Linked DNA regions of Homo sapiens: region 2 is linked to region 1. The links come from fine-mapping of genetic effects on gene expression. Tissue or cell type: whole blood. Region 1 holds a variant in brackets; the other region holds the start of a gene. All regions are shown on one strand. Distances are between the middles of the regions.

Region 1 (8,258 bases):
ATTTTTTTTTTGTAGAGACAGGGGTTTTGCCCTGTTACCCAGGCTGGTCTTGAACTCCCAAGCTCAAGTGATCCCCCACCTCAGCCTCCCAAAGTGCTAGGATTACAGGCATGAGCCACCGCACCCAGCCCCAAACTCGTTAGAAGAGTAATCTAATACTCTTTGCAGTTGAATCTTATTTCCTTTTTTTTTTTTTTTTTGAGACGGAGTCTTGCTCTGTCACCCAGGCTGGAATGCAGTGACATGATCTTGGCTCACTGCAAGTTCCGCCTCCCAGGTTCAAGCCATTCTCCTGCCTCAGCCTCCCCAGCAGCTGGGACTACAGGCGCCTGCCACCACACCCGGCTAATTTTTTTTGTATTTTAGTAGAGACGGGGTTTCACCATGTTAGCCAGGATGGTCTCGATCTCCTGACCTTGTGATCTGCCCTCCTCGGCCTCCAAAAATGCTGGGATTACAGGCGTGAGCCACCGCACCCGGCCTTTTTTTTTTTTTTTTTTTTTTTTTGAAACAGAGTCTCGCTGTGTCACCCAGGCCGGAACGCAGTGGCACGATCTTGGCTCACTGCAAGCTCCGCCTCCCGGGTTCACGCCATTCTCCTGCCTCAGCCTCCCAAGTAGCTGGGACTACAGGCGCCCTCCGCCATGCCCGGCTAATTTTTTGTATTTTTTAGTAGAGACGGGGTTTCACCGTGTTAGCCAGGATGGTCTCAATCTCCTGACTACGTGATCCGCCCGCCTCAGCCTCCCAAAGTGCTGGGATTGCAGGCGTGAGCCACCGCTCCCGGCCTTACTTCCTTTCTATTTATATTGTCTTCTTTTCATCCCTTGCCTTTTATCTTTCTCCCTTCTATCCTCTTCCAGCCCTTCTCTTAGAATCTTAGGATTTAGAACTAGAAGGAACCATTAGAGACCACTTAGACCAGGGGTTCTGCACATTAGAATCATCTAGGGGAGCTTTTAACAAACTACAGGTACCAGTATCCCGTCACAGACCAATTCATTAGAATTTTAGGTTCAGGCTTTTTTTTTTTTTTTTTTGAGACAGCGTTTCACTCTTGTTGCCCAGGCTGGAGTGCAGTGGTGCCATCTCAGCTCACTGCAACCTCCGCCTCCCAGGTTGAAGGGATTCTCCTGCCCCAGCCTCCGGAGTAGCTGGGATTATAGACGCCCACCACCGCGCCCGGCCATCTCAGGCATTTTTAAAAGCTCCCCAGGTGGGTCTAATAGTGAAGTCACGGGCCAGGCATGGTGGCTCACGCCTGTAATCCCAGCACTTTGGGAGGCCGAGGCGGGAGGATCACAAGGTCAGGAGTTCAAGACCAGCCTGCTCAACATGGCGAAACCCCGTCTCTACTAAAGATATAAAAAATTAGCCAGGCGTGGTGGCACATGCCTGTAGTCCCAGCTACTCAAGAGGCTGAGGCAGGAGAATCCCTTGAACCCGGGAGTCGAAGGTTGCAATGAGCCAAGATGGCGCCACTGCACTCCATCCTGGGCAACAAGAGCAAAACTCCATCTCAAAAAAAAAAAAAAGTGAAGTCACGATTAAAACACTGATCTAGCTGGGCGCATTGGCTCACGCCTGTAATCCCAACACTTTGGGAGGCCGACACGGCGGATCACAAGGTCAGGAGATTGAGACCATCCTGGCTAACATGGTGAAACCCCGTCTCTACTAAAAACACAAAAAAATTAGCTGGGTGTGGTGGCAGTGCCTGTAGTCCCAGCTACTCGGGAGGCTGATGCAGGAGAATGGCGTGAACCCGGGAGGCAGAGCTTGCAGTGAGCCAAGATTGCGCCAGTGTACTACTCCAGGCTGGGTGACAGAGCAAGGCTCCGTCTCAAAAATAAATAAATAAAACACTGATCTAGTTCAGTCCCTTTACTATATAGATGAGAAAATAGAGCCACAGAGGTTAAGTGACTTTGGCACTTTTTCTTCCTATAAATTTTTTCGCTTTTTTTTGAGACAGTGTCTTACTTTGTTGCCCAGGCTAGAGGTACAGTGGTGCAGTCATGGCTCACTGCAGCCTCAGCCTCCTGGGCTCAGGCAGTTTCCCCCCGCCAAATCACACCTGGCCTTTTTTTTTTTTTTTTGGGCAACAAGGTCTTGCTATGTTGCCCAGGATGGTCTCAAATTCTTGCCCTCAAGCAATCCTCCCTCCTTGGCCTCCCAAACTGCCGGGATTACAGACAGGAGCTACCATGCCTAGTTTCTTCTCACTTTCCTCTGACAAACTTTTCAACACTCACCTGTTCCCCCAGTCGTCCTCATGGATTTCCATTAGCCCCTCTGTTGACATCTGTAGCCAAGGGAGGCCAAGCAGCAGCACTTCATTCAGGTAGATTCAGGATATACACACCAGTACCTCCCATTCCTCCTCTTATTCCATTAGCCTTTGTGGGGGCAGGGGCTCACCTGGTTAATGCAGTGCCCCAGGTTTTGAAGGGCCCATCACTTTGTTTGCTTTGAGGTGGTCATATCGGGTGAGTCATGTGCTAAGTTCTCTTCCCAGCTGTCTGTGAGATGTGTGGTATCGTGGGTACAAGGGAAGCCTTCTTCTCCAAGACCAAGAGGTTCTGCAGCGTCTCCTGCTCCAGGAGCTACTCCTCCAACTCCAAGAAAGCCAGTATCTTGGCTAGGTTACAGGTGAGAGGCAATCACTTGGATCCTTCCCGGTGCCTTTGGTGCTGAGACAGGAACCACCAAGTGACTGAAGGCCAGGGCCAGGAAAGTTTGAAAAGGTCCTTGCTTGTGGCCAGCTGGTATTTATTATGTTCTCAAACTTCAGAGGACAGTAGAATCCATTTGTGGAGCTTTTTAAATTATAGGTTCCTGAAGCTACGCTCCATTACCTACCATCATCCCCCAGAGTCTGGTGTATTCAGTACATTTTAAACAAGAACTATGGGGGAGTCTGACACCCTTGGTCTTCACCCCACACTTTTATAAATCCTTTCAAAGGAAGTTGGGAAACAGGCCCAAGGTTCACCAGCCACGGTGGCTTCAGGAAGACCATGCCTCCTCGGACTCCATGTCACAGGCAGCTACCTAGAAAGTCTTGCCAATTTTCTAAATTACTGATATTTATAGAATCTTTAGAGATGGAAAGATTCTTGGATGTGGTGTTGAACCCACACATTTATTGATAAGTATACTGAGGTCCAAGGAGGTAGAATGACATACCTAGTGTGGCTCTGTAGGAGGAGAATGGCGGAATTGAGGCTGGAACCTCATCTCAGGGGCCTCATCTTACCTTGTTTCCCAGTAGCTGGGACCAGCATCTGCAACACTGCTTCCCAAATTTGCCTGCATGTTGGGATCACCTGGAAAGTTTAAAAATTATTGATGCTGGTCGGGCACGGTGGCTCACGCCTGTAATCCCAGCACTTTGGGAGACCGAGGCGGGCGGATCACGAGGTCAGGAGATCGAGACCATCCCAGCCAACATGATGAAACCCCGTCTCTACTAAAAATACAAAAATTAGCCAGGCGTGGTGTTGTACGCCTGTAGTCCCAGTTACT[C/T]GGGAGGCTGAGGCAGGAGAATCGCTTGAACTTGGGAGGTGGAGGTTGCAGTGAGCCGAGATCGTGCCACTGCACTCCAGCCTGGGGGGAAAATATTATGTAAAATATATTGATGCTTGGGTCCTACTCCGAAAGGTTCTGATTTAACTGGGATGGTGTGTAGCCTGGACAGAGATTGGAAGAGCTCCCAGGTGATCCTAATGTGCAGCGAAGTTTGAGCACCACCGATGTTTATTAGAAATTGCTGTGTCCCAGATCCTTCTGCTTACTGCTTCATACACTGTCGCCTTTGTGAGACAATTACCATTGTTTCCCCATTTTGTAGATTTTACTTAAGGCACCGAAAGATCCCTCTCTTCCGAGAGCTAAGAATAATATTGGTAATATTAATAGCTATGGTTTGGGAGTACTTGCTAAGGGCTTGACATTCTCAGTCCAATTAACGATCTTAAAAAATTTGATTTTTAAAAAAATTCCTTTTTATAAAGGCTCAGAAATTTTAGTAACTTACTTAAAGGTATACAACTAAAAACTGTAGAACTGGGATTTGCCCTGTAGGTTTGTTTGGGACTTAAACCCAGATTTCTGCTTCACTGATCTCTTTAGTAAATTCCTGGCCTTCCTGTTCAGTACTTAAGTTACAAAATACAGACCAGATCAGTGGCCATTCCCTTTGGAAAGGGAGGACCCCCTTTGAGTACCTAATGAAAGCTGTGGGTCCTCTCCCAAACATTCGCCTATGTGGACCCTCTCCCGAACATTCGCCTATGTGGACCCTCTCCCGAACATTCGCCTATGTGGACCCTCTCCCGAACATTCGCCTATGTGGACCCTCTCCCAAACATTCGCGTATGTACAGAAGGTTGCCTCCCAGTTCATGAGCGTTTCTGGGCCCCTGTGAGGCCCATTCTTTGCTTTGGATCTATCAGTAGCGACACTGGAGGAAGGAGATGACTGAGACTTGAATCTGGGAGGACAGAAAGGCTTAAAAGATAGAACATGGGTCTCTCCCTGCTCTGCAGCACTGCCTAGCACCCCCTAGCACCCCCGACGCTTCCCCACAACCACCCCCTGAGCTCAGGATTGTTATTGTCATCACTGTTTCACACATGAAGAAACTGAAGCCCAAAAGAGGTTAAGTCACTGGCCCAAGCCCAGGACTTCAACTTGGCGGCCCAAATCCAGACTCATGATCCCAGCCGCCAGGCTACACATAGCCTCTGTCCTCCTCTCCAGGGAAAACCACCGACCAAAAAAGCCAAAGTCCTGCACAAGGCTGCCTGGTCTGCCAAAATTGGAGCCTTCCTCCACTCTCAAGGGACAGGACAGCTGGCAGATGGGACACCAACAGGACAAGACGGTAAGATAGCAGAGGGCCCTGCTTAGGAAGCTGCCGTGGCTGGGGAGGAGACTGGGTTTGGGGTGGCCTTTCCTAGGAATGAAGACTGGGCAAACCGGCCAGGTAGAAAGTGCCCTAAGTCAGGGTCACTGCGGATTGCATCTTCCTCACCTGTTGGGTATTGTGGAAATTACCCAGAAAAATGCCTTCAAACACCCTTAAATTATCAGGACTCCTACCCATGATAATTCAAAAGCCAAGAATTGGCTGTTTTTGTTTCTCTTTGCTTTTATCCTTTTGGTTTCTGTTTCCCTGGGGCAACGAAGGCCCAGATATGGTTTGAAGGCAGGTTTGGAGAGGGGTGGTGGGATAAGGAAAGGAGCCTCTCTCTGAGTGTGTAGCAATTGCTAAGCAAGTTAAATGTATGCATAAAGCAACTCTGCTATCATTGTTCTGAGTTTCTAACTGAAATTGAGCTCAGCAGGCCGGAGCTCAGTTGGAGGGGCCCTGGTGTGTGCGCACCCCCTCCCCCACATTTAGATTGGGTGTGGCCAATCAGGTTCAGGGCGGAGGGAGGAATTTAAGCCCAGGGATATTTCAGTTTTCCCCTTTGGGGGAAGAAGGGCGAGAAATTTCCCTTTGAATGTTCCTCTACTCCTGAGAGTCTTGCCACCTTTCAATTCAGTCCTCAACAGTGGTCCCTCATGGCCACTGGTGGATCAGGTATGGGAGTGAAGGAGGGTGTCGTGGGCAGCGCTGTGAGAGGGGCTGCTGGGGGTGGGGGACCTACCTCTGCAGGTCCCACAGGGCCCTTGGGGTCCAGGCTCCTGGAGTGGCTGCTGCGCAGGCTCCTAGTCTGACTCGTCCTCTCTGCTCTGCAGCTCTGGTCTTGGGCTTCGACTGGGGGAAGTTCCTGAAGGATCACAGTTACAAGGCTGCTCCCGTCAGCTGTTTCAAGCACGTGAGTGCCCTGGAGCTGAGGGAGGGAGGCCGGGGAGCCGGGCCTGGAGCTGCTCCTCCACCTGCTTCACCAGGGCGGCTTCAGGCTGGACAGTGACAGTGGGGAGGTCTGGGCAGGAGACGGATGGCGTTACCACTCGCTCCATTTCATGTTTATGTCAAAAAAATCCTCCTACAAACACTTCTATCACCTGCTTGGCTTCACTCCCGGTCTGAAGCCCTTCAGTTTATTTACATGATGGAACTTGGTGCTAGCTGATGTCGAAGGGTCTTTGCAGTCTGAAACCCTTCTCTCCTTTCTCCCCCATTTGCAGCATTTTCCCATGGAAAGCAGGGTGCTTCTGTAGCTGGCCTGGGCCCCGTGGGCCCCGAGAGGCAGATGTGGATGCTCCTGGAGCCACTTCTGTAAAAGGCTCCTCGATGCGGATCATGTAAAAGCCAGAACGAAGGGCAAGGCCCTTAGGGGCGGGGCTTGAGCGCAAGAACCGAATATCCAGCAGCTGTGACGTGTGGAGCCTGCAGGCCGGGAGAGCAGAGCCCACAACAGCACTCTTGTTTTGTCTTCACACCACGTCCCTAAGCTCCGGGAAATCCAGGAGGAGGCCTCTTTAGTCTTGAGGAAGTAGGGAGTCTTTTACCCAGAGTAAGCCACTTCCTCTCCTCCTTTCAGAACTGCCACTGAACTCTGGGGAGTGCCCTGAACAATGACAGCTGCTTCTTGACTCAGCTAACTCACTCCTCTCGTCTCTGAATGGCTAATGAAGGTGCACCTCCTTCCTGCTGGAGGGGGAGCCTCTTTTTTGCCCTGAATTCTCTAATAGTTTCAGCATTTTCATTTCCAGGGAGTTGCATCATCCTTGTGTCTAACACATATAATCCAATTTGCTTTGTAAAAAGCCTGCCCCTGCGTGCCTGGGCTAGCGCAACTGTGTCCGGGTTCTGTGATGAACTAAACTCAAGTGACCAGGGAGATGGAATGGGATACCTCAACTGGCTGAAGCCAGGGCTGAGAATAAAAAAGGTGAATTTGGCCAGGCGCAGTGGCTTACCCCTATAATCCCAGCACTTTGGGAGGCCGAGGCGGGTGGATCACCTGAGGTGAGGAGTTCGAGACCAGCCTGGCCAACATGGTGAAACCCCATCTCTACTAAAAATACAAAAATTAGCTGGAAGTGGTGGCAGGCACCTGTAATCCCAGCTACTTGGGAGGCCGAGACAGGAGAATCCCTTGAACCTGAGAGGCGGAGGTTGTAATGAGCTGAGATTGCGCCACTGCACTCCAGCCTGGGTGACGGAGCAAGACTCTAAAAAAAGTGATTCTCCCAAAGGAGAATCAAAAGTACCATTGGCAGGAAAGTGAGGATTAGGTACTGGGAAGGCAACTGAAACAGTCCAGTGCTGTCCTGGGGCACTTTATTTTATTTTATTTATTTTTTCGATATGGGAGTTTCACTCTTGTTGCCCAGAGCTGGAGTGCAATGGCACTATCTCAGCTCACAGCAGCCTCCCCCTCCCAGGTTCAAGCGATTCTCCTGCCTCAGCCTCCGGAGTAGCTGGGATTACAGGCATGTGCCACCACCACGCCCGGCTAATTTTGTATTTTTAGTAGAGACATGGATTCTCCATGTTGGTCAGGCTGGTCTCGAACTCCCAGCCTCAGGTGATCCGCCCGTCTCGGCCTCCCAAAGTGCTGGGATTACAGGCGTGAGCCACCATGCCTGGCCCCCTGGAGCATTTCAGTAGGAGGGGAGGTAGAGAGTAAACTTGCAGGTGGATGGCTGTGTGTAAACAAGGGGGTCATAATGCCCACAGCCCAGGTTTGTATGATGATTGAAGGAAAGTATATTTGTGCTAATATCAGCGCCCTGCCATTGCTCGGGCTGGCACAGGGACGAAGGGATCGAGGCTCACCAAGGCATCATGTGCCCAAAATGATACAGTAAGAAACCAGTCCTATAAAGATTTTAGGACTCGGTTCTGTCTGACTCTGGGTCTCTAGCCATCACCCTGCATCCCACCACCTCCACCTCTACTCCCGGCTTAGCTCTTCAAGGACAGGAGACCTCATCTCTTTATCTCTAGTAGCTGGTTCTGCACACAGTGGGTGATGTGAAAAGTTGAGGTGCAAACGAGGACTTGACTGAGGCCGTGAGGCAGTCTGTCTCCCCTGCTAGCACAGTTAGCTCACTCTCTCGGTACACTCTCATCGCCACACAGGTCCCACTCTATGACCAGTGGGAGGATGTGATGAAAGGGATGAAGGTGGAGGTGCTCAACAGTGATGCTGTGCTCCCCAGCCGGGTGTACTGGATCGCCTCTGTCATCCAGACAGCAGGTGAGTGTTTGGCCAGGGCAGGGCCAGGGATGTGTCTGCAGAGTGACATCTCTAGATGGGTGAACAGTGTTGTAGGCAGGAGTTGGCTTCATAAAA
Region 2 (8,000 bases), 710 kb after region 1:
TGCTCTTATGAAGATCAAATGAGGTATTGATGTGACGGCTCTGGGTCTCAGTTTCCTCGTCTGTTAAATGCATATGAGAATTATCTAAGGTTCCTTCCTGCCCTTCTCTGGGGACCACAGGCCAGGAGGAGAACCTTGCATACAACCCCTCATTTTTCAGAAGAAAAAACTGAGAACTCAGGGGAAACTTCCTACCGGCTGGCGGGGCCAGCTGGGACAGAGAGATGCCCAAGGTTTGCATGTCTGAGCCCCAGAGGGGTTTCACCCACCCTCGGGGTTTTCACCTGCTGAGCTAACCCTGGCTGTAGCAAAAGATGGGGTGGGAGATGGGGGTGTCCAGGAGAAGATGGGGTGGGGGAGATGGGGTGGCCAGGAGAAGATGGGGTGGCCAGGAGAAGATGGGGTGGGAGATGGGGTGGCCAGGAGAAGATGGGGTGGGAGATGGGGTGTCAAGAGAAGATGGGGTGGGAGATGGGGTGGCCAGGAGAAGATGGGGTGGGAGCTGGGGTGGCCAGGAAAAGATGGGGTGGGGCAGATGGGGTGGCCAGGAGCAGCTCAGACTCCCCCAACTCCAGATGGAAGGGGAGTGGATGGCTGGGCCCATGTGGGCCTGACCCCACCAAACCTCTCCCACACCTACTGCTTGTCACTTGACCTCACCCTGTCACCTGGCTCCCTGGGGGCAGGGGCATCTGAGATGGGTTCATGGAGCAAATAGCCAGGCAGAGACCTGGATGTGAGTGGCCACTGTCTTCCAAGCTGGGCACACAACAGGTCCTTGGGACAGGAAGCACTGAGTCCAGAGGCCTGGCAAGGGACAGGAGGGGCAGGAGAAGCAGGGGTCTACAGGTGGCTCTGGTGGCAGCTCAGGGGGAGGCAGGCAGAAAACATCTGATGCACAGAACAGAACATGCCCAGGGCCCAAGAGTGGGAAAACAGCACCCAGAACTCCACCTTCTGACTCCTAGTCCAGTGCTCCCTTCCAAAGATGCTAAGCTGCAACAAGTTCCAAGGAAGCTGCCCAGGGCGAAGTCCAGGTCAGGAGGTTCTGACCCTGTGCAGGAGGGCAGGTAGGAGGCGGCTGACTGAGTGCACAGTGTCGTCCAGGAGTGGAAAGAGATGGTCTTGTCCCCAGACCCCAGAGCAAGGAACACCATTGTAAGAGGAGGGAGCAGCTTCCACTGTGACGGTGGGTGACCAGGGGGCTGGCACAGGATGGCCAAATAAGCCCAGCACTGGGGGGCCAGTGCTTCAGGGGAACAAGCCAGAGAGAGAAGGGAGTTCAAGGGACCTCATGTCCACCTGGTTCAAGGTCACACGCCTGCCCTGGCCTCTACACAAAGGAGCCTCCTGTAGGTCCCAGCCCTTCCATGTTTATGGCTAAATGTGCTGTGTCTTGGAGCAGCTGGAACCCCAGGTGGACCCTGAGAGAGCTACCTGCCAGCATGTTCCTTCAGCTCGAGTTTGGAGTCCAGCCCTGGAGGCTGCGCACCTCCTCCCAAATGCAGGCTTGTGGCTCTGGAAGCTGCCACTGGGGTCAAAATGGCATCTTAGGTTCTGGCAGATTGGGCCAATCTCAGGGTTGACCCTGGGGTACAGATACCTGAGAATCAGCAAAATCCAGCTCAATCTTTTCTCCTTTGTTATTTCTTAAAATAATCTTGTACTAAATCCCAAAGCAAGCGAACCCATGAATTGATTATTCACTGCTGCCATTTGCATCAGTTTAAAAGCAGGACGGCTCTGAGGGCAGGTATTAAAGAAATAGAGGCCAGGCCCGGCGCCTCCTGCCTATAATCCCAGCCCTTCGGGGAGGACTGCCTGAGGCCAGGAGTTTGAGACTGGCCTGGGCAACATACCGAGACCCTGTCTTTAAAAAAAAAAAAAGGCCAGCCACGGTGGCTCACGCCTGTAATCCTAGCACTTTGGGAGGCTGAGGCGGGCGGATCACGAGGTCAGGAGATCGAGACCATCCTGGCTAATACGGTGACACCCCGTCTCTACTAAAAATACAAAAAAAATTAGCCGGGCGTGATGGCGGGCGCCTATAGTCCCAGCTACTCAGGAGGCTCAGGCAGGAGAATGGTGTGAACCCAGGAGGCGGAGCTTGAAGTGAGCCGAAATTGCGTCACTGCACTCCAGCCTAGGCGACAGAGCGAGACTCTGTCTCAAAAAAAAAAAAAAAAAAAAAATTAGCTGGGCAAGGTGGAGCACCTGTAGTCCCACCTACTCAGGAGGCTGAAGCAGAAAGATTGCTTGAGCCCAGGCTGCAATTAGCTGGGGACCCATCGTTGCACTCCAGCCTGCGTGATACAGCAAGACCCTGTCTCAAAAAAAACCAAAACACAAAACAAGGCCGGGCATGGTGGCTCATGCCTGTAATCCCAGCACTTTGGGAGGCCGAGCAGGGCGGATCACGAGGTCAGGAGATCGAGACCATCCTGGCCAACATGGTGAAATCCCGTCTCTACTAAAAATACAAAAATTAGCTGGCTGTGGTGGTGCGTGCCTGTAATCCCAGCTATTCGGGAGGCTGAGGCAGGAGAATCACTTGAACCAAGGAGTCGGAGGTTACAGTGAGGCGAGATCGCGCCACTGTACTCCAGCCTGGCGACAGAGCAAGACTCGTCTCAAAAAAAAAAAAAAAAAAAAAAAAAAAAAATCAAACAAACACAAAAAACCACCCAACTACAAATTAGGCATCCTCCCACTTGGTCTTTTTTCAGATTCATTTTGGCTTAATGGTGCCTTCCCCATTTTAAAAGCGGTCTTTTACTCATAGTGCCCCAGCCTTTTGAAGGCACAGGAACAGGAGCTGGGCTACCACCTTCAAGGGCTGTCAAAGATGGTGAGGTCTGAAGCCAAAGGCAAGCACACCAAACTCCATGGGGGCTGAATGCTGTGGTCTGTAGTGTCTGTGCTTCTGCAGAGTTAGCCTGGTCCCAGAAAGAGGGCATGTGCATGCTGGAGTGAAGAGCTGAATTTGATTTCCAAGCCCCTGGCTGGGGGTCCAGAGGGAGGGCAGGGGCCACCTCCTGCCGGCTCCCTGCTATTGTTGCTCAGGGCCGGCCGTCTTGGTGGTCACCAGTTCAGTGGAGCCCAGCTCTGTGGCTGGCACAGGGACACTGTGGCCAGGTGGGGTGGTTCCTGGGTCTTCCCCAGGAGGAGGCCAGGCAGGAGCTGTGGCATCAGAGATTCCCGGAGACAGAATGATGACCTTGTCCAGGGGCTCTGGGGCTGCAGGCAGAGGGGGTAGAGGCTCCGTACTCAGTCACAGCCTTCCCTCCCTCCCCTAGAAGACTCCTCTGGAGGGGCAGTCCTCCGTCAAATGAAGCCCAATGCAGGGTGGGGAGGGGTGGCACCTGGCTGACCCTGAGTCCAGAGGCCTGGCCAGTGGGGAGCTGGCAGGGCAGGGAGTTGGGGAGCTGGGGCTCAGTCTGGCAAACTCTTCAGGGATTTATGGGGGAACCAAGCTCCGTTAGACTCCCAAAGGGCAGGACAGACTCCTCCCTCAGACGGGGCCCCCTTCCTGCAACCTGTCTCTTCCTCACACTGGGGTCTGTCAGGGCAGAGCTGTTCCTGGCTCCGACCAGGGTCTCAGGGGCAGGACTATGTCTCCCTCCCCAGCCTGAGCTCCTCAGCGCAAACTCTTTTCCACTCTGTCTCCGTTTCCCCTTAAAGCCCTTCTCTCCCCCTCAGGGGCCATGCATCTCCCCCTAGACCGTCCCGACACCCCAGCCCCTGCGCCCCGCTCAGACTGGTTCCCCTACACACGGAACTCACCGTCCTTGTCTCCGTCGGGGGCCTCTGCGGAGGACGCGCCGCGAAGCCGCCGCTGTCGCCGCCTCCAGCTCACCAGACCCACCAGGACCAGCGCCAGGACCAGTGCCAGGCCCAGCAGCGCGGGGGCGCCAAAGAGCAGCCCGGGCAGGGGCAGCGCCGCCTCGCCGGCCCCCGCGCCCACCGACTCCTGCGGCTGCAGCGCCGTCCTGGGCGCAGGGCTGCTGGCCCCGGCTGCTTCGGGAGGGGACAGGGAGGGAGGCCAGGGGGCCGAGGGGAGGGAGGAGCGGGGACGGGGAGGGGCGGAGGGGGGCGAGGCTGGCCGGGGAGGGGAGGGACAGCCGGGGGGCGGTGGACAAGGGGAGGGAGAGAGGCGGCGGTGAGGGCCACGCGGTGATCGCGGGCCCCTCCAGGCCCTGCCCACAGGGTCCTTTCAGCCCTCGGCGCCCCCGGGGGTCGGGGCTCTGCCTGCGCCCTGGCGATCGGGGCCCCGTTCTCCCCGCAGCTGCCGGCGCCGCGCGCCCCGTGGGTCCCCCTTACCCGGTTTCGGCCGCGGCGTGCGCAGGAGCCCGCAGGCCACGCAGTGGCGGACCAGCAGGTCGAAGCACTCGGCCGGGACGCAGGGCGTGGGGGCTGGCGCGTCCCTGCCCCGCAGGCTCCGGGGCCCTCGCCTCATGGTGCCGACGCCGCCGCACAAGCTGCGGGGACTGAGGCTGAGCTGGGCTCCGGGGCCCTCGGGGAGGAAGCGGGGGGCGGGGGGAGCACTCTGCCCTGCCCCGCCCCCGCCTGCTGGGTGGGACCGAGCTCGCCTGGGGCCCCCCTTTCTTTTCTTTTTTTTTTTTTGAGACGGAGTCTCGCTCTGTCGCCCAGGCTGGAGTGCAATGGCGCTATCTCGGCTCACTGCAAGCTCTGCCTCCCGGGTTCAAACAATTCTCTGCCTCAGCCTCCCGAGTAGCTGAGATTGTAGGCGCCCACTGCCACGCCCGGCTAATTTTTGTATTTTTAGTAGAGACGGGGTTTCACCATCTTGGTCAGACTGGTTTTGAACTCCTGACCTCGTGATCCACCTGCCTCGGCCTCCCAAAGTGCTAGGATTACAGGCGTGAGCCACCGCACCCGGCCTGGCCTCTCTTTCTACCTGTGGTTCCCCAATTCAGCCCCTCAACCAGCACCGCCTGGGTGGGCCCTCTGCTGGGTGCTGGGAGGTGTCTGGGGGCAGACCAGAGCCTCCTCTTGGGTAGGGAGGGGGATGGACCCCGCAGCCAGGACACAGACCCTGAGTGGTTCCTCTGCTCCGTCTAGCCAAAGCCTCTCCATGACCCCGAGTGCTCCCCTGCCATCTCCCCCAACCCACCTGTCTCCTCCTCTCTTCCTGCCCTTCCTGGACAGAGCTGGTTGGGGATATCAGACACCTGCTTTTTTTTTTTTTTTTTTTGAAAAAGAGTCTGGCTCTGTGCAGTGGTGCAATCTCGGCTCACTGCAACCTCTGCCTCCCAGATTCAAGCGATTCTCCTGCCTCAGCCTCCCGAGTAACTGGGATTACAGGCATGCACCACCATGCCCGGCTAATTTTTGTATTTTTAGTAGAGGTGGGGTTTCACCATTTGGCCAGGCTGGTCTCGAACTCCTGACCTCAGGTGATCCGCCCTCCTCGGCCTCCCAAAGTGCTGGGATTATAGGTGTGAAGCCACAGTGCCCAGCCTGACATCAGACACTTGTACCAGGCCCAAGTAGCATGTGGGTCTGCCCTGAGGGAATCTCACACTTGTGCTGATGGGGGAAGACAGCCTCGCAGCAAGGGCACCAGCTCACGTCATCCTGGAAGGTGGGCCGGAAGGCTTCATGGAGAGGGCGATGGTGAAGTGTTTGCCAGATGGACTGAGGTCTAGGGAGCAGATGGGGGTGAAGGCCAAAGGGGAGCAAAGGCTTGGAGGCCCAAACAGGAAGTCCAGGGAGTGCTGGGACCGAAAGGCTGGACTGGGGCCTTATCTAGCACATTAGGGAGCTTGGACTGTGGCTGGGGGACACGAGGGAGCCACTGGGGCTTTGTGCAGGGAGGACCCAGGAAGATCTGCCTATGAGTGAGGGAACTGTGACTGCAGTGGAGGGAAGCCCGCCCACACCTGCTCCTTTTCTCCAGGGCTATGTGTCCTCTCCTGCTCACCTCTGTGTCTCACTGCGGGCCCCTCCTGTCTATCTCTGCTCCCCAGTGTTTGGGGTCCCCAACTGTCTGTCACCCGTGTCTCTCTCAGACTGCGTCTCAGAAACACACACAAGCCCCTCCGCCCTCCTGGTCACATGCTACCCCCTCCCCAGGGCCAGGGCTGGAGGGAACTCTGGGAGCTCAGGGCTCAGCAGAGAGCATGGGGTTAAATGCCACACATGCCACCCAGACCCCTAAGCACTCAGGGCTGGGGAAGCACAGTGAGAGGAGAAACTCAGGGGCTGGGGAGGGAGCCTGGGGGCAGAGGGAGACCCTGAGCAGCAGCGAGGGGGAGGCAAACACTCCAGGCGGAGGGCTGCAGGGGCTAAGGCTTGGAGAGATGAAAGGGGAGCCTGAGCTGCTCTGGGGGCAGGCATGGCCACTGCCACAGGGGATGCTGGGAGGGAGGAGGGAGCATCCGGGCTGCGGATGGGCAGGGCACCAGTCCCGGGGCAGTACAGAACCTGGGGGTGTCTGGGTAGGAGGGAGATTCTGAGCTGTACCTGCAAGGGTCCCTCTCTCTGGCACTGTGGCCCACGTCCAGGGCAGGTGGCCCAGGGCAGGGGATGATGCAGCGGCTGGCCATGGAGTGAGGGGAGCAAGGCCGACCCCCAGGTTTCCAGCTTGGGAGACCCTGAAGGTTCACAAAGAACCCCAGTCAGCCAGCCCTGACTGGTGGGCGCTGGCCCACCCTCTCCATCCCCTGTACATGGGCCAGCAGCTCCCAGGCAGGAAGGTGTGGGCGGAGGGGAGCTGCAAAGGAGAAGTGGGGCTGGGGGCAGGTGTGGGTGAGCGTGGGTGTATGGTGATGTGGGGGTGGGGGCAGGTGTGGGTGAGCGTGGGTGTACGGTACAGGGATGGGGGACAGGACCCTGGAGGGGAGCCAGGGCAGGGAAGGCCTCTCTGTGAGGCAGAGAGGTGGGGACAAAGCCAGAAGACTGAGCCATAACCCTGCCACCCACATACACGTCCATCCATGTTGGTGCTGGTATTACCCATTAGTGAGGGCTGCAGAGGCCTGACTGAGTACCAGGCAGCTCATTTAGCCCTTGTGCCAGCCATGTGGGCAGACTGAGGCTTGTGGGAACCCAGGAACGGGGAACCTGTCCCTGGAGAGGGTGGCCCAGTGAGGCCAGAGTCGGGAGAATTTACAGGAGTTAGGAGGAGGGGGTCCGCCTGCCCCAGGTCTGCGTTTCACAGCAGAAGCACTGGCTGCTCTGACCCCCAGCAGAGACTCGAGGAGACTGCTCTCAAGGCCAGAGAGAGTGGGAGGGCTGGAGCCCACTGTCAGAGTTCCAGGGTCCCTTACCTTGGCCAGAGAGGGAGGCCAGCTGCTAAGAGCAGCAGACACAAATGAGACACCCACTCATGTGACACAAATGTTTGCTGGGCGCTCCCTATGTGCTGGGCCAGGTGCCGGGACAAAAGGCCTGCGGGATTCGTGTCTGTGTTGTGTGCAGGTGCCTGGCCTCACATGAACCTTTCCACTTGGGCCTCCTAAATGGGGTGGGGGTGGGGGGCTGCAGCAGGCCCTGTGTCGCTACTTGGATGACAAAACAGTTAAGAAGAATTCACAATCAGACCAATGTGGGGAATGTTAGTTTACTCCTCAATGTATTCTTATTTCCCCGTGGCTTTTTTTTTTTTTTTTTTTTTTTTTTGAGACGGAGTCTCTCTCTGTCGCCCAGGCTGGAGTGCAGTGGCGCAATCTCCGCTCACTGCAAGCTCCGCCTCCCAGGTTCACGCCATTCTCCTGCCTCAGCCTCCCGAGTAGCTGGGACTACAGGCGCCCGCCACCATGCCCGGCAAATTTTTTGTATTTTTAGTAGAGACGGGGTTTCACCGTTAGCCAGGATGGTCTTGATCTCCTCACCTCGAGATCTGCCCGCCTCGCCCTCCCAAAGTGATGGGATTACAGACGTGAGCCACCGCGTCCCTTTTTTTTTTGAGACGGAGTCTGGCTCTGTCACCCAGGCTGGAGTGCAGTGGCGTGATCTCGGCTCACTGCAGCCTCTGC

The links. PIP is the estimated chance that this variant, and not a neighbour inherited with it, causes the effect.
Region 2: it holds the start of TNFRSF13C, and the variant in region 1 is fine-mapped to the expression of TNFRSF13C in whole blood (INTERVAL, PIP 0.95).

Annotation. Positions count from the first base shown.
Region 1 is chr22:41,211,375-41,219,632 of GRCh38, forward strand. L3MBTL2 (L3MBTL histone methyl-lysine binding protein 2) reads left to right here. Exons shown (of 17, transcript NM_031488.5): 3 at 2,519-2,652; 4 at 4,765-4,888; 5 at 5,749-5,828; 6 at 8,045-8,162. L3MBTL2-AS1 (L3MBTL2 antisense RNA 1) reads right to left here and starts at 6,253. Exons shown (of 3, transcript NR_148200.1): 1 at 5,658-6,253; 2 at 2,256-3,329. RefSeq lists enhancers at 6,427-7,124, 7,125-7,821. The variant C/T (reference allele first, on the strand shown) is at 3,529.
Region 2 is chr22:41,922,318-41,930,317 of GRCh38, forward strand. It overlaps TNFRSF13C (TNF receptor superfamily member 13C), which reads right to left and starts at 4,489. Exons shown (of 3, transcript NM_052945.4): 1 at 4,321-4,489; 2 at 3,784-4,014; 3 at 1-3,237. The coding sequence starts at 4,456. The coding sequence ends at 3,050. It overlaps MIR378I (microRNA 378i), which reads right to left and starts at 980; the gene lies at 905-980. It also overlaps a transcript of CENPM not described here. RefSeq lists enhancers at 1-2, 2,716-3,217, 3,218-3,717, 6,275-6,344, 6,488-7,098 and 1 more and a silencer at 3,810-4,549.